Linked DNA regions of Homo sapiens: regions 1 and 2 are each linked to region 3. Evidence: fine-mapped expression QTL. A gene starts in region 3. Each other region holds a variant in brackets. All regions are shown on one strand. Distances are between the middles of the regions. Region 1 has its middle 4.5 kb from the start of DIPK1B. Region 2 holds the start of LINC02692 (long intergenic non-protein coding RNA 2692). Region 3 holds the start of LCN12 (lipocalin 12).

Evidence for each region.
Region 1: its variant is fine-mapped to the expression of LCN12 in aorta (GTEx, PIP 0.98).
Region 2: its variant is fine-mapped to the expression of LCN12 in uterus (GTEx, PIP 0.91).

The regions. Positions count from the first base shown.
Region 1 is chr9:136,704,022-136,712,192 of GRCh38, reverse strand. No RefSeq gene overlaps it. Among named protein-coding and RNA genes, the nearest start is that of DIPK1B, 4.5 kb to the left of the region's middle. The variant A/G (reference allele first, on the strand shown) is at 3,921.
Region 2 is chr9:136,967,215-136,975,385 of GRCh38, reverse strand. It overlaps LINC02692 (long intergenic non-protein coding RNA 2692), which reads right to left and starts at 5,974. Exons shown (of 5, transcript NR_157392.1): 1 at 5,913-5,974; 2 at 5,327-5,500; 3 at 4,343-4,422; 4 at 3,810-3,888; 5 at 2,502-2,709. It also overlaps LOC124902312. RefSeq lists enhancers at 6,418-6,917, 6,918-7,419. The variant G/C (reference allele first, on the strand shown) is at 3,095.
Region 3 is chr9:136,947,213-136,955,383 of GRCh38, reverse strand. It overlaps LCN12 (lipocalin 12), which reads right to left and starts at 3,111. Exons shown (of 6, transcript NM_178536.4): 1 at 2,943-3,111; 2 at 2,356-2,492; 3 at 1,605-1,684; 4 at 1,420-1,536; 5 at 1,129-1,230; 6 at 1-13. The coding sequence starts at 3,056. RefSeq lists silencers at 2,290-2,471, 5,095-5,594, 5,615-5,714.

The sequences.
Region 1 (8,171 bases), 240 kb after region 3:
CGGTTCGAGGCCGCAGAGCCAGGGCTGGTCCTTCCCCTGGGTCCTCAGGATGGGGTCAGACGCGCGGAGCCCTGGGCTGGCCGAGCCTGCAGCCCGCCCCGGGGTCCGACCCTTCCCTCCTGGCTGAGACCCCGCGCCTTGGCCACTCGCCGGGAGGACACTTCCTTCGCCTCCGCGTGGGGTGCTCGGGGATGAGCCGTTGCCGCCTCCATAGGCAGGTTCCGTGTGAACAGAAGCTTTCATTGCACTTCGGTAAACACCTGGGGGGGCTGAGTTGGACGGTGAGGGATGTGGGGCGCAGCCAGCAGCTGCCAAGACTCGCTCCCTCCCCGCGGCCGCCGGCGCTTCCAGCTGCTCCGCATCCCGGGCGGCTCTTGCTATCGGCAGGTTTTTACATTTTAGCCATTTCCCTGGTGGTGGCGTCTCGCTGGGGCTGTGGTTCGCGTGTTTAACACACTTTCTGCGTGTTCAGTTACCACCTGTGTATCTTCTCCAAAGTCTATTCAAGTTTTTGACCATTAATAAAAATCACGTTGTTTCTTTATTATTAAGTTTTGAGACTTATTTACATTTTGGTTTTAATTTTTAATATCTAGAATGAGACTGGGTCTCAGTGTTTTGCCCAGGCTGGTCTCGAACTCCTGGGCTCAAGGGATCATCCTGCCTTGGCCTCCCAAAGTGCTGGGATTACAGGCATGAGTCACCTGGTGCCCAGCCAAGACTTTTTTTTTTTTTTTTTTTTGAGAGGGAGTCTTGCTATGTTGCCCAGGCCGGAGTGGTCTCAAACTCCTGGCCTCAAGTGATCCACCTGCCTCAGCCTCCTAAAGTGCTGGGATTACAGGCGTGAGTCACCATGCCTGGTCCGAGACTTCTTTATATCTTCTGGATATCTGCCCATTATTACACATGTGATTTGCAAAGATTTTTCTCCCAGTCTGTGGCTTTCTTTTCATTCTCTTAACAGTTTCTTTCTTTTCTTTTCCTTTTTTTTTTTTTTTTTTTTGACGGAGTTTCACTCTTGTAGCCCAGGCTGGAGTTCAGTGGCGCGATCTCAGCTCACTGCAACCTCCGCCACCCAGGTTCAAGAGATTCTCCTGCCTCAGCCTCCCAAGTAGCTGGAACTATAGGTGCAAGCCACCATGCCCGGCTAATTTTTGTATTTTTAGTAGAGACGGGGTTTCACTATGTTGGCCAGGATCACTCCTGACCTCATGATCCGCCTGGCTTGGCCTCCCAAAGTGCTGGCATTACAGGCATGAGCCACCGTGCCTGGCCACACCAGGCTAATTTTTTAATGTTTTGTAGAGATGGGGTTTTGCCATGTTGCCCAGGCTGGTCTTGAACTTTTGGGCTCAAGCGATCCTCCCACCTTGGCTTCCCAAAGCTCTGGGATTCTGGGCGTGAGTGAGCCACTGCCACCAGCCCGGATCGTGCTCTGAGTGTGTCATCTCTAAGAAATTTTTGCCTAACCGAAGGTCACAAAGGTTTTCTGTGCTTTCTTCTAGAAGTTGTATAGTATTCGGCTTCATATTTAAGTCAATGACCCAATTCCAGTTAACTTTTGTGTATTGTGCAGGGTGTGGATCAGAGGGTTTTCAGTTTGGGGCTTGGGGGTTTTGTTAGCATTTTTTGCACATGGACATCCAATCCTTCTGGCATCATCTGTTGAAAGGATGAGCCCCTCCCCACAGAATTGCATGGCAGGGAGTTAAACAGAGAGGGACAAGGCCAGGGGGCAATGGGGTCAGGGTTCTATGCCAGGTATAGAAAGGAGGGGTGGGCCTGGGGGTGTGGCAGTGGCCTAGGCCAGCGACCTGGATGGACAGGGCTGGAGGCAACGTGAGGAAGGGGAGAGGGGCCAGTGGGAGAAAGTAGCAGGCAGACCCTCCCAGTCTCAGTGACCCCCAAGGTAGCCGTAGCCCAGGCTGGGAAGAGGGACTGCCATGTCCCCAAGTGACCTTTCCTCTCTCCCTCGATCCAAGCACTGTCTCTCTGCCAGCGAGGGTCCCGGAGCCCAAGAAAGGGAAGAGCAGTACGAGAGGGTGGGACACAGAGCACAAGCACCAAGAGGCCAACACGTAGGCTTCTCCCGGCCTGGAGGGAGGCCTTGCCATGTTTACAGCTGGGAGAGCATGTGCTTCCCTGCATGGCCTGTCCTCCTCCTGCAGGAGGGCTGTCCCAGGGCCAGGGGGAGTGGGTGCAGGGCAGTGGTGGTCGGTCCGGCCTGCAGGGAGCTCAGCTGGAGGGTGCAGGAGCCCACACCTTCCGTCAATGTGAGCCAGGCCAAGACCGCGGCCAAGAAAGTTCTGGAGGGTCTCCCGAGGAGGGCTTCCTGGGGGAGGGGCGCAGGAGAGCGTGATCCGTGGGTCAGGATCTGGGGAAGGTGTGGGCCATGAGAAGGATGAGCGCAGCCTCAGTGCCACTCCCAGGCTGCCAGGAGGGAGATGGCCCGCCCTGGGAGGAGTGCCTGGTGAGCGCATAGCCGGCCCTGGGTGACCCTGTCCCCGAGATCTTCCAAAAAGGCATTTCCCAGCAGGGCCCGCGGGACGCGGTGCTCCCTCCAGGCAGGGACCAGTGACCACGTTCTCCTTTGCATCTGCAGGCCTGGCCCAGAACCTGCACACTGTCCGTGGCCACTAGCCCATCAAGTGTTCATGGAATGGGCACTGGCCGGGTTCCAGTTCAGTTTGAATGGGTCTAGTTCTCGTTTTGGGGCCCTTGTTTCTACGCCACCAATGGGTGACATCCACCTGCCTGGAACATGAATGGGGCAGAGGACCCGGGAGGTGCTGACTGGTATCTCAGGTGTGGGGGCGGGAACTGGGCCGTGCCTTGCTGTTTCTAGGGCCTTTCGTGGCCTGAGGCCCTGAGCTCAAACCCTGGCCAGGGCAAACGACAGGTAAACGAAAGGTCCACTGCACAGACACAGACGCAGAGACACAGGATCACACACACCTTCGGGGCAGGCTCCGGGGACAATTCTGAAAGTGGAGGACCTTCCTGCCCTGTCTTTCCTTCCCATTCGTCCTGAGGCCTGGGAGTTTCCTCCCCAAGCAGGGGGCCCATTGCTCTCCCTGCCCTGCTGCAAAACTGGCATGTCCCATTCCAACTGCTATAACTGCGTCTCTTCCCCAGGCATCCCCTACTCACACCCAGACCTTTTTTTTGAGATAGAGTCTCGCTCCGTTGCCCAGGTTGGAGTGCAGTGGGGCAATCTCAGCTCACTGCAAGCTCCGCCTCCTGGGTTCACGCCTTTCTCCTGCCTCAGCCTCCCGAGTAGCTGGGACTACAGGCGCCTGCCACGGCGCCCAGCTAATTTTTTGTATTTTTAGTAGAGACGGAGTTTCACTGTGTTAGCCAGGATGGTCTCGATCTCCTGACCTCGTGATCCGCCCGCTTCGGCCTCCCAAAGTGCTGGGATTACAGGCGTGAGCCACCACGCCTGGCCTTTTTTTGTATTTTTAGTAGAGACGTGCTGAGACCAGCTCAGTCAGGGAGACCCTATCCGAGCGGCGTTAGAGGAATTAAAGACACACACAGAGAAATATAGAGGTGTGAAATAGGAAATCGGGTCTCACAGCCTTCAGAGCTGAGAGCCTCGAACAGAGATTTACCCACGTATTTATTGACAGCAAGCCGGTGAGCACACCAGGTGAGCAGCCGTTTAGGGGGCCCTGGTGGATCGAGGGCCCTGGAGAGCCACGAGCTTTCCCTCAGACGGTGGAGTGCGGCGCGTCAAGTTTCCCCCAAAGGGAGAGCTGCCACTTCCGATGAGAAGCTGACATATCACCGGGGACCCGCCCGCTGCTGTTGAATACAGAGTCTTCTGTTTGCAAAGAGAAGCTCTAGGGCCCTCCTTCCTTGTGGTGGTTGTGTCTGAGTTGAAAACCCTCCGAATGGGACTGTCAGGCTCCAGTCAC[A/G]AGGCCTCCGTGGTCAGGTGGTTCACTGGGACAAGAGCTCGTTGTAAGCTAATTTTGCTTTTTGAAAACAAGGGGTGAACCTAGTAGTCGTGTCAGAGAGTCAGTGAATCCACCACCCCAAGGGGCACATCTGGGCAGAGGCTGTTTTCTTTCTCTGGAGTTTCCAGATAACGGGATCGTCAGCCACAGGGACTTGTCGTTCAAAGGGATCACAGGGCTGTGAGGCCCCAGCGGGAGAGAGAGTGGCCTGTGGCTCACGGGGCGGCAGCTGGAATAGCCTGTTGGTTCAGGCCCTGACGTAAGCAGGCTGATTTGTGGGTTCACTAATTTATTTTATTTATATTATTATTTTTTTGATACCAAGTCTTACTCTGTTGCCCAGGCTGGAATGTAGTGGTGTGATCTCGGCTCACTGCAACCTCCACCTCCCAGGTGCAAGCGATTCTCCTGCCTCGGCCTCCCGAGTAGCTGGGATTACGGGCACACACCACCACGTCTGGCTAATTTTTATATTTTTAGTAGAGACAGGGTTTTGCTATGTTGGCCAGGCTGGTCTCAAATTCCTGACCTCAGGTGGTCCACCCCCCTCGGCCTCCCAAAGTTCTGGGATTACCGGCGTGAGCCACCTCGCCCGACCTGGATTCACTAATTTAAGAAGCCAAGTCGAATGCCCAAATGAAGCACATCCTGTCTCCAACACCCACACAGTCCAATCAAGTGCTGGGTTGTCCTTTTGGGTGAGATGAGGGAGCAAAGAGACAACAGGTTTTCCTTGACTGGCTGAGGCAGTGAGTGCTGTGGACCCACCTCCACCTACCTCATCCCAAGAAACTCCACCTGGTGAGGCAGCCACTGGACGCTGTTGATGTTTTGCCTGCCTCTGTGGACAGGGAGGTATGAGAGTACCCCCGTCTAGTTGTCTAGTTCTAGAGACCCAAGGCTTCTGAGCTGCCAACCTGCAGGACATCATCTGTATCATGGCACCTGTGGACATCAGAAGTCCTAACCTGCCCACAGGTGGCCAGTGGCGGGGCGTGTACGGGGAACACACCTAAGTGTATTGGAGACCTGGCCATGTGAATGCAAGCTGGTCTTGCTCCTCCCCTGCCAGTGGTGTGGCAAAAAGGCATTGGCAGGATCCAAGACAGTGTACCAAGTACCCGGAGCCCACGTGATGGGCTCGGTATGGTCACAGTGTGTAGGACAGCTAGGGCTCTGGGAGCAATGGCTGACTTCTGTTGGTGGTAATCCACTGTCAGCCACCAGCAGCTCTTACCTGCTCCACTGGCCACTCAGGGATGTTGTGTTGCCATATTTCATCTCTTTTTTTTTTTTTTGACACGGAGTGTCACCCAGTGATTGTCACCCAGGCTGGAGTGCAGTGGCGTGATCTCGGCTCACTGCAGCCTCTGCCTCCTGGGTTCACATGATTCTCCTGCCTCAGCCTCGCGAGTAGCTGGAACTATAGGGGCCCGCCACTATGCCCAGCTAATTTTTGTAGTTTTAGTAGAGACTGGGTTTCTCCATGTTGGCCAGGCTGGTCTTGAACTCCTGACCTCAGATGATTCACCCGCCTCGGCTTCCCAAAGTGCTGGGATTAGAAGCTTGAGCCACCACGACCAGCCTTTATTTTTTTGAGGCAGACTCTCACCCTGTTGTCCAGGCTGGAGTGCAGTGGCACGATCTCGGCTCACTGCAACCTCCACCTCCCGGGTTCAAGTGATGGGTTCAAGGGATTCTTATGCCTCAGCCTCCCGAATAGCTGGGACTATAGGTGCCCGCCACCACACCTGGCTAATTTTTTTGTATTTTTAGTAGAGACGGGGTTTCACCATGTTGACCAGGCTGGTCTCTAACTCCTGGTGTCAAGTGATCTACCGGCCTCAGTCTCTCAAAGTGCTGGGATTACAGGCGTGAGCCACCACGCCCAGCCCCATATTTCATCTCTTAGTCCCCCTACTGCCCTTAATCCCTCAATCAAACCTCTGATGCGCCTTTTTCCCTCTGGGATTCTGTACCGCTTCTGGGATTCTGTACCCGCCCTGAAAGCGGGTTGCAGAGAGATTCACACATCCCACTGGCCCTTCTCTGCATTCAGTGCTTGCCAATAGGGAGAGTCCCCTCTGGCACGTACAGGATGGAAGTATGGGGATGAAACACAGCTCCTACGCGGCAACACACACATAGAAGCATCAAAAACAGGGCATCGAATTGGCCCAAAATGCCACACCCACAAGATCACATCAGCCTTCACTCCCCATTTCAAACCGTGCACAAATCCGGTGAGCGGAATCCAGAGAACTTTTCCTTCCACTGGTCCAAACAGGAGAGTGATGTGGGCTACTCATATCCGACAGAGCCATAAAGTTTGAGTTCTTCTTCTCCTCCAAGTTCTCCAGCACACTTGGATGGTGCCCACGGCCTGGGAACCTCTAATCATCTTTCTTCCTAACGTAAGTGGAGGGGGGTGAGAGGTGGAAGGAGGAAGTCCATGAACAAGGTTCTGCGTTTATTTTCAGGCAGCGTGGCAACGGCTCATGACTCAGCCAGGGACTGTTCCATGATTTTCAATCCATCCAATGCTCCGTACCAGGCAGTGAGCTTCTCACAGCTGACCCATCTACTTCAGTTTTGGGAGCCCCATGGCTTAGTAGCCATTGCCATGTTGTTTTCAGCTGGATCTGTGGAGTTTGCACCATTTGGCCAACTCGAGCTTGGTGTCCCAGTGGCAATCTTATTTGAGGATTCTTCCTACTTTAGACAAAATAGATGTAACAGAGTTGATTTGAGCATTAAAGGAGGCATGAATCAGGCAGCACTCAAAGGTGGAAGAGGCTCTGGGAGCTCTGTCTTAGCAGTGTGAGCAGCAGGCTTTTACAGGCTGAATGTGGAAGTGAAGTACGGAAATAACTCAAGGCCAGGCTAGGCACCGTGGCTCACACCTGTAATCCCAGCAGTTTGGGAGGCCGAGGCAGGCAGATCACATGAGGTCAGGAGTTCAAGACCAGCCTGGCCAACATGGTGAAACCCCGTCTTTACTAAAAATACAAAAATTAGCTGGGCATGGTGGTGTGCACCTGTAATCCCAGCTAATCGGGAGGCTGAGGCAGGAGAATCGCTTGAACCCAGGAGGCGGAGGTTGCAGTGAGCCGAGATCACACCACTGCACTCCAGCCTGAGCAACAGAGCATGACTCTGTCTCAAAAAAAAAAAAAAAAAAGAAAAAGAAAAAAAAAAGAAAAGAAATAACTCAAGACCTTTGCCTTATTTGGGTGTGGTCTGATTGGTTGGCTGCCCGTGATTGATTGGTTGAAACCTGGCTATCTGTTAACAAACTACTGAATAAAGTTGTTGTTGGTTAGTGGGAACTCCCAGTACAGAGACGGCCTCAGGCAATGACTGCTCCTTATTTTGCTTTAAACAACTTTAATCTAGCCGGGCAGGGCATGGTGGCTCACGCCTGTAATCCCAGCCTTTTGGGAGGCCGAGGCGGGCAGATCACCTGAGGTCAGGAGTTCCAGACCAGCCTGGCCACCATGGTGAAAGTCCTTCTCTACCAAAAATACAGAAATTAGCCACGCATGGTGGCAGGTGCATGTAGTCCCAGCTACTCGGGAGGCTGAGGCAGAAGAATCGCTTGAACCTGGGAAGCAGGGGTTGCAGTGAGTCAAGATCGTGTCACTGCACTCCAGCCTGGGTGACAAGAGCAAAACTCATCTCAAAATAAATAAATAGATAAATATAAATAAATAAAATTCAGTGGTGCCTCTTCCTCCTGCTCCAGCCACGTAGGACACACCTGTGTCCCCTTCACCTTCTGCCACGATGATGTTTCCTGAGGCCTCCCCAAAAGCAGAAGCCGCTATGCTTTCTGTACAGTCTGAGGAACTGTGGGCCAATTCAACCTCTTTTCTTTCTAAATTACCCAGTCTCAGGTATTTCTTTGTACCCATGTGAGAATGGACTAATATAGATGGTTTTGGGAGGTGGTGCCTTTGGGAGGTGACAAGGTCATAAGGGTGGAGTTCTCATGAATGAGATCAGGGCCTTTATAAAGGAGACCCCTGGCCGGGCACGGGGCCTCAAGCCTGTAATCCCAGCACTTTGGGAGGCCGAGGCAGGTGAATCACCTGAGGTCAGGAGTTCGAGATCGGCCTGGCCAACATGGTGAAACCCCGTCTCTACTAAAAATACAAAAATCAGCCTGGGGTGGTGGCGGGCACCTGTAATCCCAGCTACTCGGGAGGCTGG
Region 2 (8,171 bases), 20 kb before region 3:
AGATGGCCAGCAGGTGGTCAGAGACACTCCCCAGACACGGCTGAGTGAGGACCAGTGAGTGGGAGCTGCCCACGAGCCCTGATTCATGGGTGCACCTGGGCCCACCCGAGGGCTGGAGATTCATCTCTCACCACATCCAGGAAGGGCTGGGCAGTTGCCAGCTCCTGGCACGCCAGATTTCTCCCCTCCTCCCCCGGCTAGGACTGTGCAAGGTGGACAGGGGCAGGAGGGACCTTCGCAGAGCCTCTTGCAGCTTGGGCAGGGACAAGGACCACCCTGCACACTCTCTGTGCCCTTCCCTTTGCTCTGAGCTTGGCTGCCAGGCAGGACCTTAGTGGAGCCTGGCGGAGGGCTGGGCAGGAAGAAGGCTGGCCGCCCCACCCTGCTCTCTGGGAACCAGTCTCTTTGAGTCACAAAATGCAAAGACTTGGCCTCCACCCTAAGAGGTCACCAAGGCCATCCCCCTGCCTGCGGCCCAGGCAGGTCATGGACAAGCCTGGTGGCCTGGGCCTAAGCTCCCAGAACTGACCCCAACCTTTTCCTGGAGGGAAGCTGTCTCCACCCTGGGGCCCCGGCCAGCATCCTCCGGGGGCAGTGATGACCCTGTCCAGCATCCCCACCAATGGTTTGCCCTTGAGGGCCGAGGCTGTCCCAGTGACTGGTGGGAGCTGAGCTCGACTGAGTGTCCACCAGCCTCAAATAAACTCATGGGGACCTCGTGAGCCCCACCCACCTGCAGCCTGGGATCAACTCCCCCAGCCTGGGACTGGGGAGGGGCAGCCTCTACACCCCACCTTTCAGAGGTACCCAAGCCTCACGGCCCCAGAGGCTCACTCCTGCCAGAGCTGCCCCGCTGAGGATCTTCCATAGGGAAGGGCAGTGCCCGGGATCACTGAGACGCTGTGGAGTGTTCTGGACAAGTCAGGGGCAGAGCAGGAGCACCCCTGAGATTGTAGCCGGGGAGACCAGGGCCGGGTGCGGTGGGGGCAGCTCAGGGCTCCTCTAGGGGCAAGAAATTCTCCCCAAGGCCTCCCTGCGTCAAGGGAGCTGCTCTGTGATTGAAGGAGGCCTGAGTGGACGGGCCACGTGGGACAGCCCCTCCTCAGGGCATCTCTGAGCTGCTCAAAGCACATGGGACCCACTCTTCACCCAGCCCTCCTCTCTGTGCCTGTCTGTTTGGGTGTTCACTGACATGGGGGACGGCCACCTCTCCGCTCACCCTTTCTGGCTGCCTCTGGCCACCTCTCCCAGCACCACCCTGGAGGTCAGGCCCGCCCAGCAGCCGGGGACGGCGCAGAGGACAGGGCAGCCCGGGACAAGCCAGAGGATAGGGGAGCAGATATGTCCCTGGGACTTGAGGCTCATATGTGCATTGCTGGCCATGGGGTCCAAAGACGGTTATGGCCAAGCCTCAGCCAATTCTGCAGCTTTGGAGCCAGGGCTAGGCTGGCTGTCTGTGGGGGACAGATGGCAATTTGGGGGTGCTGAACGATCTGTCCAATGTGGGGTCCAGCAGGCTGGTCAGAGGCTGCCGCATCCCAAAGGTAGCAGGGCCGGGAGGAGGGGGCGGCCCAACCCCCAACACCACACCCGCACCCACACCCGACACCACACCCACACCCCTGGCCTCGAGAAGCTCAGCTCCAGGATCCCGGTGCAGTGGACCTCTGAGGCCCAGTCTGGCTTCAGGAAGCGCCCAGCTCGGCCATGGAAGGTCAGGGCTAAAGTGTCCCCACCTCACCCATTTAGGGGCTGGGCGGGAGCTCCCCAGGAGGGCAGGGTCTGGGCAGGGGCCAAGCCTGGGAGGGCCTCGCCTAAGGACCCCTGGGTCACTGTAGCACCAGGCTGGGCACCGCTCCCCACAGAGACCAGAAGCCGGAAGTACCATTCAGCGCAGGGGCTGGCTCCGGCAGGGCACAGGTGGAGACCCGATCCCAGAGGCTGCTCCCCACCTCTGTGCCCACCCCCGGTCAGGGCTGGGCCTGGATCTTCAGGGACTCCTGCCTCCCATCGGGGGAACGTGGGGTGGCACACAGGGAGCCTGGGCCCACGCCCCTGAGATGGGGGCTCCTGCCTCTCACTCTGGGGTTCCTTTGAGGCAACCCAGGGGGATGGGGCCACAGATCTGAGAAGAGCCAGCGGTGAGGAAAGGGCGCTCCTAGCAGGGGCAAGGGCTGCCAGGTGCTGTGGAGCTGGGCAGGGACCCTTGGTCACAGGCCTCCGCAGCCTCTGTCACCCCACGGTCCCAGCCCTCCAGCCTAGGGCAGTTTCTGCTGGGCGCCATGGAGGGTGGCCTATGTTTGAGGATGAATCTGGCTCTGTTCACCAGAGAGCGTGGGACGGGCCAGGAGAGCACCCAGCTGGGAGGGAGGCAGCCACTGGGGGTTAGATGAGGACAAATGTCCGAGCTCAGCTCCTCCTGGGCCTGGAACCTGGGCTGCTCCCCGAGGCCCTGCCCACCCATCACCCAGTGCTCAAGGACAGTCGGATCCGGCTTCTCCTGGCACAGACTGTTTATTTCTGATGGGGTCGTGGGGGCAGGTGTGGCTGAGCCTCCCACGTGGAGGGGGCACCAGCGAGGCTGGGATGGGCGGTGAGGGTGGGGCTGCCAAGGGCCGGGCCAGGCTCCAGCGTCCTCAGGACAGAGGGTGGCCGGCCCAGGCAGAGAATCACGGAGGGGCTAGAGTGAGAGGAGGGAGAAGCAGAGACCTGCAGGAGAGAGAGGGGTGGAGGGGGTGCCAGGGCCAGGAGGAAGGAGGGCCTCGTGGATCCCAGAGTGGCCCGGGACCCCCAGGACCCCTGGCAGTCACACTCGTGGCTCACCACGGGCTCTTCTGTGAGGCAGGAGTGCTGGTCAGAGGCCCAAGGGTCCAAGGCCAGGGTCGCACGACCTCTGACCCGGGGGCTCCTGCCTGCCCCCAGGGCTGCCTTGGGAGCTGCAGGTGGCCCAGTACAGGGGACCCAGGAGCTTGGGCAGAGACCCTCAGAGGCCCTGGGTTGGGTGGGGGGGACACTCCAGGCCGCAGGTGTGTCCAGGTTTGGGCCCCGCAGTGTCCCCCACACCTGGAGCAGTTGGTAGCGAGGCTCCGGCAGG[G/C]CCCCAGCTCACTCTCAGCTCTCAGAGCCTCAGCTGCTGTGGCCTCAGCTCATGGCCTCCCTCTTCCCACGGGGCCCCTGCGTCTGGGGGGCCTGGCCTCTTCCAGCTCAGAACCCTCTTGCCTCAAGCTTGGCCTTCCCGGCCAAGGCCCTTGGGTCAGAAATGGGGGCTGACAAGGGCTTCCCTGCAGCCCCTCCTCCGGCACTGCCGTCCCCTCCGCCTGCCGTGTACGTGGGGTGCCTCCAGTGACCCCGGGTCCTGCCAGGACCCTCTGGCACCTGGCCTTGACCTCCGGACCCCTATGGTCTCCTGGGCAGTCCTCCCCGCTGGGCTGCACGGACAGGATTGGGGCTGGTGCCTCTCAGGTTGTGTCATTCAGGCACCAGACACCCTCTCCTCGGCGGACACTGCTGCCCGGCCCCAGGCTTTGGCCTGCAGGGCTCTGGGCCAACCTCCCCGCATCAGTGTGGTCTCTGCTTGCCTACCCCACACCCCCAAGGCCTGCCGGGGCCAGTCTGGGGCAGGAAGGGAATGTGGTCAAGGCTGATGCCCAGGATCTGGTCAAATCTGATAAATTTCTCCCTCAGGTCTAAATCCAGCTCCTTCCCCTGCCCTGTGCCAAGAAGGGGGGTGAGCCCTGGGGAGACCCCTCCCTCCCCAGCCCAGCCCTCAGGGGGTCCTGCATGGCCCCTTCCCGCCGTGCTCAGGGCCTCACCGAGCAGCTTGGCCTGGGTCCCTTCTCCTGGCGCTTGGTCTCGGCGTAGCCTCCATCTCGTCATTTTCCAACCCCACTTCTGCACGGAGCAGGCGGGTCAGGCAGGGCTCAGGACCCTACTGCTGGGGACAGGCTGCTGATCATGCCCCCTCTGGGGCCACACCAAGACCTTCCCTGGAGTGTCCATTTTAATTTATTTATGTTTTTCGAGTCAGGGTCTTGCTTTGTCGCCCAGGCTGGAGTGCAGTGGCACGGTCACAGCTCAATGCAGCCTCCTGGGCCCAAGCAATCCTCCCTCCTTAGCCTCCCAAGTAGCTGGGACTACAGGCATGCACCACCACACCCAGCTAATTTTTCAATTTTATTTTTGTAGAGATGGGCTCTCCCCATGTTGCCCAGCCTGGTCCCGAACTCTTGGCCCCAGTTGATCCTCCTGCCTCGGCCTCCCTAAATGCTGGGATTACAGATGTGGAGTGACCTTAACCTGGGGCAGTTCTGGGCCTTTCTTGGGGTGTCAGGCAGGGAAGACTCACCCTCCCGGCCTCCAAGGGGGTTCTGAGCTGGCTGCTTCTCCGGGACAGGGGTCCTGGCCCAGCGTTTGCAGGGTGGGTCCCTGTGGGAGGAGGTTGTGGTGGGGAGAGGCTGGGGTGAAGGCTTTGGGGAGGGGCAGGTCGGATGAGCTGGGGAGGGGAGGCTTCCTGGCCTCCCGGAGGGTCCTGCTCCCCACTCTTCCTGAGGCTGCTCTTCCTGGCAGCCTGCCTGTCCCCGCCTCTGACCACGTCCCCTCCCCGTGGAAGTTCTCACTGGATGCATGGAATTGGGATGTCCCAGCCACAGCCACCATGTCCCTGGGCCCTGCACCCTGCCCTGATCTTCCCCTGCCCCTGGGTCTCAGGACAGGCTCCTCCTCCAAACTGCAGGCCCCGGGGGAGAAGCAGGGGCCCCACAGCTGTGCTGAGGGTGTGGGTGAGCTCCCTCAAGGCAGGCGCTGCCTCCTTCCACCCACGGGGTCCACCCACCTGCCTGTCTGTATGAAGGGTCTCCACCCCACAGCCCTCCGTCTCCCCTCCCCGGGCAGTCCCATCACCCGGCAGGGGCTCTGGGCACCCAGCCTCAGGTGAGCAGGCTGGACATGACCACGGCTGCCACCAACATCCTGAATTGGGACCTGCGCTCCGGCCTGAAAGTGTTGACCGCCAGCCCCAGGACGCACCACTCCCCCAGAACTGCAGGGGCTGGCAGTGGGCAGGGCCAGGACCCCCTCCCCAGGCAGGGGTTCCAGGCTGGGCTGGCACCCGTGACTCTGGCAGGAGTCCGGATCTGACAGGGATGGGTGACCCTGGCCAGTGGGTGGGCAGCCTTCCTGAGCCTCACTTTCTCCACCTGCACAGAGGGCGTGAGCTCTTCCCACCTGGCAGGGTTCTCCAGGGCCATGAGGGCCATGCTCACTGTGGCAGTCAGGCCCATCGGCCCAGCTGCACCCTCCTTCCTCCTTCCCCATCCTGGAGGCCACTCACCCGCTCCTTTCTGAGGCCAGGCTGGAGACAGATCTTGTGGAAAGGCAAGTTCAGGCCCCTCTGGGGGCCCTGGCGCTGTGGCTGGACCGTCCCCAGCAGGGTGAGGCCCACCCACAGGAGTCCCAGGGCTCCACACAGGGCTGCAGGGGGCAGGACTCTGGGGCAGCAGCTGGCCTGGCAGGGGGTGAGGATGGGGGTGGGGAAGGGGGTGGGTGAGGGTCTGGGCTGGGACCCCCTAGTAACGAGGTCCCCTGCTGGCCCCCACCCCAGGACAAGCAACCTCTTTTTCTCCAAGTGCAGGAAGGGTGAGATTTTGCCCCTCTCCCTCCTCAGCAGCGGGGCTAAGGGGCGAGGCAGGGCAGAGGGAGGCTGGGCTGGGGAGGCAGGGGGCCCTCCTTGGACTCAGCCCAGCAAAGATTGAGGAGCGTGCCTTCCACTGGTGCCCACCATTCCCTGGTCTCAACCTTGGGAGGGGAAGCGGGGTGGAAATGTGGGCTGAGGGTGGGCACCCGCAGAGACCACCAGCTCCCAGGGAGGCCCCAGGCCTCAGCTCTGATTCCCAAAGCCCGGGTCCCTGCCCTCGTACCCCTACGTCCATCCTCGGAGCTGTCGCCCCGAAGGCTCCCGGCCAGCCCTGGGTCAGGGTGTGACGGCAGAAGACACCGTGCGAGAGTCCACTGTGTGCCCAGCATGGGTGGCCGCCTGGAGCCTCCCTGCCCTGTCCTGCCCTGAGGCGTCAGCAGGATCAGGCCAAGCTGTTCCCTGGCCCGGGGCAGGCTCCAGAGCGCTGGTGGTGGGTGGGACGGAGTGTGTCTGTGCTGAGGCTGCTGGCACCCACCCTGCTCTGCCCACGGGTCCAGTCTGGGCCAGGACCTCCCAGATGCAGCCCCACCCCTGTCCTCCAAGCCTCCTCTCTCCTGGGTGCAGCAGGTCTTGGCCCCACTCCCCCAGGGCCCTCAGCCCATCTGCCTCCCCTCGACAGCTGCTGTGCGGGGCTGCGGACTTCTTACCACCCTGGTCCTGTAATGAGGCCCCTGGGGATGGCTGACCCTGGGAGGCCGCTGCTGACCTTAGCTGGGGCTTCCCCAGAGGACCTTGGCCTTGGCCTGGCCACAGCCCAATTCTCAGGGGTCCCAGGGAATATGTGCATTTCTGAGTTCAGGACTTGGTGACCCGGGCGCTGGGCTGTGGGGGTGCGTCAGCTCTGGGCCCGTTGGCAGAGGCACGATGGGCAGGTGGGCCAGAGGACGTGGGCGCAGGCTGGAGGGTCCAGACACCTCCCACTGGGCCCAGCAGTCTCTGGGTTCCTCTAAGGCCTTGGGGGGCCTCTGTCCTCTTCCAGGATCCCAGCAGCTCCCTGGAGCTCAGCCTGCATTGGGGAGCATCTTGTGGGTCTTTGGTCTCTGCCTCACCCCCAGGTGCCCTGTCCTGGGCTACCCACCCTCCCTCAGGCCTGCTCACAGGGCACTTGGGTTATCTCTGGAGGGCCCTGGGCCAAGGGCAGCCCAGCCTGTGTCAGGAGCTGCAGCCAGGTTGCTAGAGAGCCCGGGCCTCCTCGCCGAGGGCTGTCAGGGCTCAGCTGTCCCAGGCAGGAACCTGGTGGCCGGCAGGTGGTGGGTGACATGACACGGGGACCTCACCTTCTCTCACTGTCTCCTCCACATCCAGCCTCCCTCAGGTCCCTCCATGTGACTAAGGCTTTGCACAGACTCCCAAGGACCCCCCGGCCATGTGCCCTCTGAGCAAGCGAGCGGTATTAGAGGCGTGGCAAAGAGGTCACAGATGGGGCCCGGCTGGTGTGCAGGGGGCTCAGGGGCCCCTCCCTCCCAGGAAGAAGCCCCTCCCCCACCCGCCCAGCCACGCTGGGGTGAGGGCTGCCGGGGCGTGGGCAGGGGAGGGGCGAGCCTAGAAGGGAAACTGCCAGGACCCTTGGTGGGGGCTGACCCTCACCAGACCGAGAATTAAACAAATAGAAACAAAGATGTAATAGGGGCCGGGTGCGGTGGCTCATGCCTGTAATCTCAGCACTTTGGGAGGCTGAGACAGGCACATCACGAGGTCAGGAGATTGAGACCATCCTGGCTAACATGGTGAAACCCCGTCTCTACTAAAAATACAAAAAATTAGCTGGGCGTGGTGGCGGACACCTGTAGTCCCAGCTACTCGGGAGGCTGAGGCAGGAGAATGACGTGAACCTGGGAGGCAGAGCTTGCAGTGAGCGGAGAGCGTACCACTGCACTCCAGCCTAGGCGACAGCAAGACTGTGTCTCAAAAAAAAATAATAGTAATAATAAAAATTAACTTCCCTTAATTTTCTGATATTTAAAGATTACAACATACTTCAAGAACATGACTCATTGTTTTTACTTAAAAAGTGAGTTTTATCTTTTTCTTGTTTACTTCACATACTACACTGATGTAAATATCCTTTTAAAAATTTTATTTATTGAATGTAAACTTTTATTATTATTATTATTTTTTGGATATAGTATCTTCCACTGTCGCCCAGGCTGGAGTGCAGTGGCATGATCTTGGCTCACTGCAACTTCCGGGTTCAGGGGTGGTAGACGCCTGTAGTCCCAGCTACTTGGGAGGCTGAGGCAGGAGAATGGCGTGAACCCGGGAGGTGGAGCTTGCAGTGAGCCGAGATCGAGCCACTACACTCCAACTTGGGTGACAGAGTGAGACTCTCTCAAAAAACAAACAAACAAAAACAAACAGAAACAAAGATGTAATAGGAAGATCCAAGTCAAAAGCTGACTCTTGGAAAAAACTAATATAGTTTAAAACTATAAAAAACTAACATAGGGCCGGGCGCAGTGGTTCACGCCTGTAATCCCAGCAC
Region 3 (8,171 bases):
TGGGGTGACCAGCCTGGTGGGGGAGATGGAGTCGGGATGGAGGACAAAGGGGGAGCAGGGGACAGAGCCCAGGAGGAAGCAAGGGAGGGCACAAAGGAGGGGCAGGTGGCTTCAGGTGAGAAGCAGGAGGGAGAAAGGGGACCAGCAGTGGGTCTAGGGGAAGGGGCTGGGGTGAGGGAGGCTGAGAAGGGGCAGAAGATGTGGCCCACAGCGGCTCCCAACAGCCCCAGGTCCTCAGGAAGCCCCTCACCTGTCCCTGTCCCCATGGGCCCCCAGACTCACTGCAGACCCAGGAGGCCTGGCATAGCGAGTGTGCAGGTGTGTGCAGGTGTGTGCAGACCAGCACGTGTGCCTGTGCACGGGTAGACAGCATGTGTGCCAGTGTGAGTGGCGTGTGTGTAAGTGGGTGTTCGCATGTGGAGGCATGTGCCAGTCTGTACACGTTTGCTCATGCGTGAGTGTGTGTGCATGTGGTTATGCACATGTAAAGGACCAGAGGCGGGAATCAGAAGGGCACGGTGGGCATCCCTCCAGGAAGAGGAGGGACTCAGGCTGACCTCGCCCTCCCACAAGAAGAGTCAGGCCTTGGGGGCCGCGGCTGTCTGAGTGGTCAGGCTGGGGCTGCCACCCAGGGCAGGCTGCTGAGGTCCAGGGCACCTCCTGGGATGAGTCCAAGCTCCTTGTGAGCAGGGATGGGTGAGGGGAGGAGGTGGCCCAGGACAGGGGACCCAGAGGGAGGAGATGGCCCGGGACAGGGGACCTGGGGTGGGAGGAGGTAGCCCAGGACAGGAGACCCGGGGTGGGAGGAGGTGGGCCGGGACAGGGGACCTGGGGCGGGAGGGGCAGGGGGAGGTGGCCCGGGACAGGGGACCTGGGGCGGGAGGAGGTGGCCCGGGACAGGAGACCCGGGGTGGGAGGAGGTGGCCCAGGACAGGGGACCCGGGGCGGCAGGAGGTGGCTCAGAGCCTGGGTTGAGCACAGGGACCCAGGAGCCTGGAGACCCCTGAGCGCAGGCTGGGGCTGAGCTCCCTGGGTAGACACTGGGTCCAGCTCCTCTAGGGTCAACCAAACTCATTCCTGCGGGCCCCGTGCCTACTGCCCAGCATGCCTGCAGGTGAACCATGTTACCAGTCACATCTGGGAAGACGATGTTGTCATCCGAGAGGCCCTGAGCTCTGCCCAGGCAGATGAACTGGTCCAGCGTCCCGGGAGGCAGCAACCAGCTCCTGCCTGCAGCCCAGGGAGCCCAGCATGGGTCTGTGCACTTGGCAGGGGGTTGGGGGCTGGGTAGGTGGGAGATTGAACTATCTGTACCCCCAAGTCACTCCAGGCGGGGTGGGGAGGCAGGGTCTGACCCAAAGCCTGGAAGGAGGTGCCTCCAGGGCCACACACGGGCCCAGGACGGGGTGGGAGGCTCACCCAGCAGGCTGATCCTGAGGACGGCCAGCCTGCTCGTGTGTCTGCGGGACAGCATCAGGGCGAACTGGGTGTAGTCGCTGTCCACCACCCGGGTCTCCTCTCTGTCCGCCCCGGGCTCTGAGGCGGCACAGACGTCACATCCCTGTGGGCCAGCACCCCGTCCCTCCCTCCTGTGACTGGCTTACCCACACCGTGGTCCACAGTGAACTGCCCAGGCTGGGCTGCCGGTATCAGCACATAAGACCATGTGTCACAGTGCTGGCCTCTGTAGGAGGGGACAGGTGGAGGCGGAAGGCTCCGGAAGCTGGCAGGTCCATGCTGAGGTGGGCCCCTCAGGAGATTTCAGCCACTTATTCAGAGGGACCCACGGCGGGAGTGGCCAAGCGTCATGAGTGGAGATGGTGTCTAACTATGTTGCTCAGGCTGGTCTCAAACTCCTGAGTTCAAGTGATCCTTCTGCCTCTGCCTCCTGAAGTACTGGGATTACAGGTGTGCGCCACTGCGCCCGGCCCCTAAAGTGCTGGGATTACAGGTGTGCGCCACCGCGCCCGGCCCCCAAAGTGCTAGGATTACAGGTGTGCGCGACCGCGCCCGGCCCCCAAAGTGCTAGGATTACAGGTGTGAGCCAGCGCGCCCGGCCCCTGAAGTCCTGGGATTACAGGTGTGAGCCAGCGCGCCCAGCCCCGGAAGTGCTGGGATTACAGGTGTGAGCCAGCGCACCCGGCCCCCGAAGTGCTAGGATTACAGGTGTGAGCCAGCGCGCCCAGCTGCCCACACTTTTTTGTATACTCCCCAGCTGGGTTTGGTCATTGGCAGGCAGAGTCATGAAGCTGCCTGTGCTGGGACAGGGCCCATGGCGCACCTGAGCCACTGGCGGCTGGGACCCAGGCCCGGGATCCTCCTCACCCGCTTGGAACGGCAGGGACAGCCACTCACCGAGTCATCGCATTCCACACCTCAAAGCGGCCATCATCACTTAGCTCAAAAGTTGCGGTGAAAGCGTTCAGCAGCGCCCTGTGCTCCGGCCTGAAGCTGTTGCCCGCCAGGCCCAGGACGAACCATTCCCCCTGGAACTACAGAGGCGGTGGTGGGCAGGGGCGGCGGTGGGCAGGGGTGGCAGTGGGCAGGGTCAGGAGCCCCCTCCCGCCCTCCCTGGCAGCTTCTGGACCCCTCACAGAGCAGTGCTCCTGGCTGGGCCGGCGCCAGGGACACTGGCAAGAACCAGAGCCTACTCTGGGTCTGGCAGGGACATGGTGACCCTGGCCAGTGGCTGTGCGGCCTTCCCGAGCCTGTTTCCCCTCACGCACAGAGGGAGCGATGGGCTGGGCTGACGGCAGGGAATGGGTGCCAGGAAGGTCTGCGCTGGGCCCTCCTCTGCTGGAGGTCAGGGGCCCGCCTGGGGGCTCCTGGAAGCACGGCTGGTCCTGGCTCTCTGGGCAGCATCCCCAGGCCTGCTCAGCCACCAGCCTCTCCCTGCACTCAGACCCAGCCGGCTGCTTCTCCTTCCGTCAAAACCCCTGTACCTGGTTTCCTTGGAAGCTCTGCATCGGGGGCGGGAGTGGCAGGGGGGTTGGGGTCTGGGCCTGCAGGACTTTCAGCAAGGAGAGCCACAGCCACAGGCCACACAGCAGCCTCATCCTGGCAGCTGCTGGGCCCACAGGGACAGAGAGAAGGAAGTGGCCATGGGCAGGTGACCCAGAGACCCACCTCTTCATGCACATACCCAGCAGGTGCCCCTCCCAAGGGGGTGTGCCCCTCTGCCTCCCTCCTCAGGACTGGCAGGAGAGGTGGTGCCCAGGGCAGGCTTGGTGTGGGCTCTCCTCAGGTCCCACCCACCCACCTGCGGTCTCTTGGGTTCCAGCCAGGTGGGGTAGGAGGGGCCCCCAGGTCCACCTTCCACCTCTTCTTCTCATTTCTGAGGCCCTGCCCCCTTCAGCCCCCTTCCAAGTGCCCCATGCTGGGGGTTCAGAGGCCCCACGCAGCCTGCCCCAGCCTTCCTCCCTGTCACAGAATGTTGCGTCCCAGGCAGACAGCGTGACCTGCCGCAGCCATAAGGGACAGGGCCCAGCTGTGGCCAAACCCGGGCATTCCCCCTGCAGGGCCTGGGCCTGCCAGCCGCCCCCCTACCCCCACCCTGCCTGGCTCCACACATGCCTGAACCGCAGCGTGGGCCGTGGCCCTGGAGCAAGAACAGGACCAGGGAGGGGCCCTGTGGCCATGAGGCCGGGGTGGAGGTGGCCCGAGCAGGCGAGGAGGGAGGCTGGGGCCTGCAGAGCACCCAGGCAACCTGGTGAGGACAGCTGGGGCATTTTAAACGCAGTCTCTGCCCAGAGGGAGGGGCAGGGCTGGGAAGCCCCACTAATGGGAGTGGGCACCCCATGCTGGTCCTGCCTAAAAGAAAGGATTAGTAGGCCAGGCACAGAGGCTCATGCCTATAATCCCAGCACTTTGGGGGGCCAAGGTGGGAGGATCTCTCAAGCCCAGGAGTTTGACATCACCCTGGACAACATAGCGAGACTCCATCTCTACAAAAAAATTTAAAAGTTAGCTGGGGGTGGTGGTGCACACCTGTGGTCCCAGCTACTTGAGAGGCTGAGGTGGGAGGATTGCTTTAGCCCAGGAGTTTGAGCCTGCAGTAAGCTATGATTGTGCCACTGGACTCCAGCCTGGGCAAGACTGAGATCTCATCTCTAAAAATATAAAAATAAAATGTAAACAGAGGGCTGGCAGGGAGGGCAATGGCAGGCTTGGGGCTTCTAGCTGCCCTGGCACCCCTTGGACGATGGGGCTAGGGAGTGGAGTCCCCTTCCTGACCTCTCCTCCCATCCTCACAGGTAGCTGAAGCCTCTGGGTGCTGGACTCCATGTTAGGGGTCACCAAGGGTGAGCCAGGTGCCTCCCACTCACCGTGTGCCTGGCCTGTGAGCCTCTGTCCAGGCCCCCCAGGTCCCTGTCCTGGCTGCCCCCTCCCACCCCAGATTCCCTGTCCTGGCCACCTCCTCCCCTCATCCAGCCCTGCTTACAAGGGACTTAGGCTCATCCCAGGAGGTGCCCTGGGCCTCGGCAGCCTGCCCTGGGTGGCAGCCCCAGCCTGGCCACTCGAAGAGCCCAGCCCCCAGGACTTCAGGGCTCCAGGGCTGGGCTCTGTCCCAGGCCTCACTGCCCACGTAGAAGGGCAGCTTGCTGTGCCTTGTCTCACCAGCACAACGCTAGCGTTTCAGGAGGCTGGCCCAGGGAAGGAAAAGTTGGAAATAATCTGTTCATTCCCCTGAACTCCCCAAGGCGCCTTCGACTCTCCACCATCCCCCTGGCCCCAGCCAGCCTAGGAGCGCCTGTCCGCAGCCCCAGGGTCCCGCTCTCAGCGCAGCAGGCACCCCTCCCGGAGCCCGTCTTATCGCAGGGCACTGGGGAGATTTGGGATCACAGCACACAGCCCATGTACAGGACAGTCCCCGCTACGGACCCCGCCCATGCAGGGCCCTGCGGGAGGAAAACCGGGCCTTCCCTGGCCAGCCCGAGACCCACAGAGACTGAGCAGCAGAGGTCGGGTGGGCCGAGTCCTCGACACAGAGGAGGGTCCCTCGGCTCCAAGCAGCGCCTCAGGCCCCATGCTCCCTCCCCCAGACCCACTCCTGCCGCCCTGGGGGGTCTGTGTGTGCCTCCAGGTAGCCACTGGCTGCTGCCGTTAACCTCTGTGCCCCCCACGTCCCCTGCAGGAGCCTCCCGGACACGACAATGGGTTCGGCGCGCCTCCTCCCCCCACCGCGGGGCAGACGCAGGTGCTGCTCCTCCCGTCTAACGTGATTGGTGGAGGGTGGGCACGTGACCTCCGCCGCCCAATCAGGGCCCTGCAGGTGCCTTTGCCTGGCTGGGCCGGCGGCGCTGGAACGGGCCGTGCAGGACGCGGGCCTTGAGGCACCTGCGGGGCTCCCGGGGGAGTCCTGGCTCTGACCTCGGCCTTCCATACCGCCTGGGGTGGGCGGGCCGGGCGCGGCAGCACACGCCAGTGAGCCCAGCGCTTTGGGAGGCCGAGGCGGGAGGCGGTGCCCGGGAGCTTGCGTGCCACGGGGAGGAGCAGCCGCGCCTTCTGCAAGGCGTCCTTGAGAGGCGGGAGGGAAACCGCCGCTTCCACTCAGCACCCTGGACCCCCAGCCCACCGTGGGGACCGGTCCCTGGGGCCTCTCCCATTGACCCCTCCCATCAGGTCCTCTCTTCCCTCTGCTTCGCTCCCCGGCACCCCCACCCCCAACCCATCGCCTTCATCTCGGCCTCCCCACAGCAACAAGGACAGACTTACCCTCCACTGCTCTTCCTCCGTTCCCGGAAAACTCCCGGCCTGTCCTCTGCTCACCCTCCCCTCTCTCTTCCCACTCTCCGGGCAAAGACCTTTTCCCAGACACGGTCCTGGGCGCTGGGAGGCCCCTTGGGGGTGGGGTGGGGGGCCAGGGGTGGTTGGGGCGTGGCTGGGGAGGAGGGTGCCTCGTCCCCACATGGAGGAGTCCTGGCCCACCTGTCCCTCTGAGCACCTGCGTGGGCAGGGAGGACGGGCACGGCACCTGCCTGTCGGCCCTGCCTGTGGGACCAGGGGCTCCCGGGGCCCCACACAGCACTCTCACGTCCAGGCAAGGCGGGGGCACCCAGGACAGTCCTGGACTCCTGACCCCGCAGGTCTTGGGCAAGACTGCTAACAATTAAATGTTAGTTTCTATAGATGAAAAAACTTTTTTTTTAAATAGAGATGAGGTCTCACTATGTTGCCCACCCAGTCAGATCTTGAACTCCTGGCCTCAAGCGATCCTCCTGCCTCAGCCTCTCAAAGTGCTGAGATTAAAGGTGTGAGCCACTGTGCCCAGCCAGTTTGCATAGTTTTGTTGTTGTTTGTTGTTGTTTTTTAAATAAATTGAGACAGAGTCTCGCTCTGTCACCCGGGCTGGAGTGCAATGGCGCGATCTCGGCTCACGGCAACCTCTGTCCCCTGGATTCAAGCGATTCTCCTGCCTGAGCCTCCTGGGTAGCTAGGATTACAGGCGCCCACCACCACGCCTGGCTAATTTTTTTTGTATTTTTAGTAGAGACGGGGTTTCACCATGTTGGCCAGGCTGGTTTCAAACTCCTGACCTCAAGTGATCTGCCCGCCTCAGCCTCCCAAAGTGCTAGAATTACAGGCGTGAGCCACAGCGCCCAGCCATTTCCATAGATTTTTTTTTTTTTTTTTTTTTTGAGACAGAGTCTCACTGTCGCCCAGACTGGAGGCAGTGGCATGATCCCGGGTCACCACAACCTCTGCCTCCTGGGTTCAAGCAATTCTCCTGCCTCAGCCTCTGGAGTAGCTGGGATTACAGGCGCCTGCCACCATGACCAGCTAATTTTTGTATTTTTAGTAGAGACAAGGTTTCACCATGTTGGACAGGCTGGTCTTGAACTCCTGGCCTCAAGTGATCCACCCGCCTCAGCCTCCCAAAGTGCTGGGATTATAGGCGTAAGCCACCACGCCCAGCCAAATTATGCAAACTATTTTAAAGAACAATGATTCACACAGAGCTATCGTGATTTTATGTAGTGTTTGAAATTTAACTAGAGCTCATTCAATGCTTCTGTGAAAATGAAATGCCTTGTAATCCTTGCGCTGCACATCCTCTGGTCCCAGAGCACACAGCCAAGTGGCCACGCACTTCACTCAGTGCGGGAACCCACCCAGCCCTGCAGTCAGAGGCGTGGAGGGTCAGGCTGGGCCACTCTGCCACCAACCACAGCACCCAAGGTCATCGGGTGGGTCTCTGGCGCCACCCCTCGGACATTCAGCCCTCCCTGAAGCTTGTGACCGTGGCCAGCTACCCGACTCCTCCTGCCCCCAGATGAGACCCTCACTTTCTGTTTGGGGGATGTGGGGCCAGGCATGGAGGAGGCTTTCCTGGGGCTCAGGCCTAGAGTCTTCCCGGCGTTGCCAGCTCTGAACCCTGAGCCCTTCTGCTGCGCCCTGCTATCTCATGGGTCTCTGGGACATGGAGCTGGAGTGGGGGAAGGCGATGCAAGGGTACGACCTCCTGGGCCCTTCTCCTTCCCAGGTCCCGGCAGTCAGGGCCCCTGCCTCCCCTTCCCACCACCTGACTTGCCTGCCCTCCTGGGGTCTAGCAGCTTAGTGAACAGGTGGGCACGGCAGGGGGAGCCCCGCCCGTGGGATGGGGACCCCCCTGAAGCAGCTGCTGGCTCCTCCCTGCCCCCACCCAGGCCGTGTGCTTTGGGACCAACTCCAAGGTGCCTTCTCCTCCCATCCCTGCCCACTGTGGCCGATTGGTGGCTGATCCCTGGACTTGTAAGTTCCTAGGGGGAGGGACCAGCCCACCTGGTGGTCCCAGGGCCCAGCACACAGTGGGCCTTCAGAAATGCTTATCAAACAAATGCCAGTGGCCGCAGGCAGGGCCTGAGAGGAGCAGCTTAGCGGCCAGGTCCAGGCCCAGCATGGTCAAGCCATGCCGGGTTCCTGATTCTCCGGCCCTAGCCCAGGGGCTGCCCCGAGGGCAGAGCTGGCCCACCCCCACATTCTCTTCTGCTTCCTGGTTTCACGGGGGACGTGGGAGTGGATGAGGTGTGCAGAGAGTGCAGTGGCTGTGGGTGGACAGCACCAACTGCTGCCACCAACACGGGCCAGCTGGTGCCAGCTCGGCTCGGAAGAGGCCAAAATGGGCAGTGACGGGAGACAGCTGGCCTCCCACGGGGGCGGAAGAGCAGCCCGGGGGCTGCAGGACAATGGCC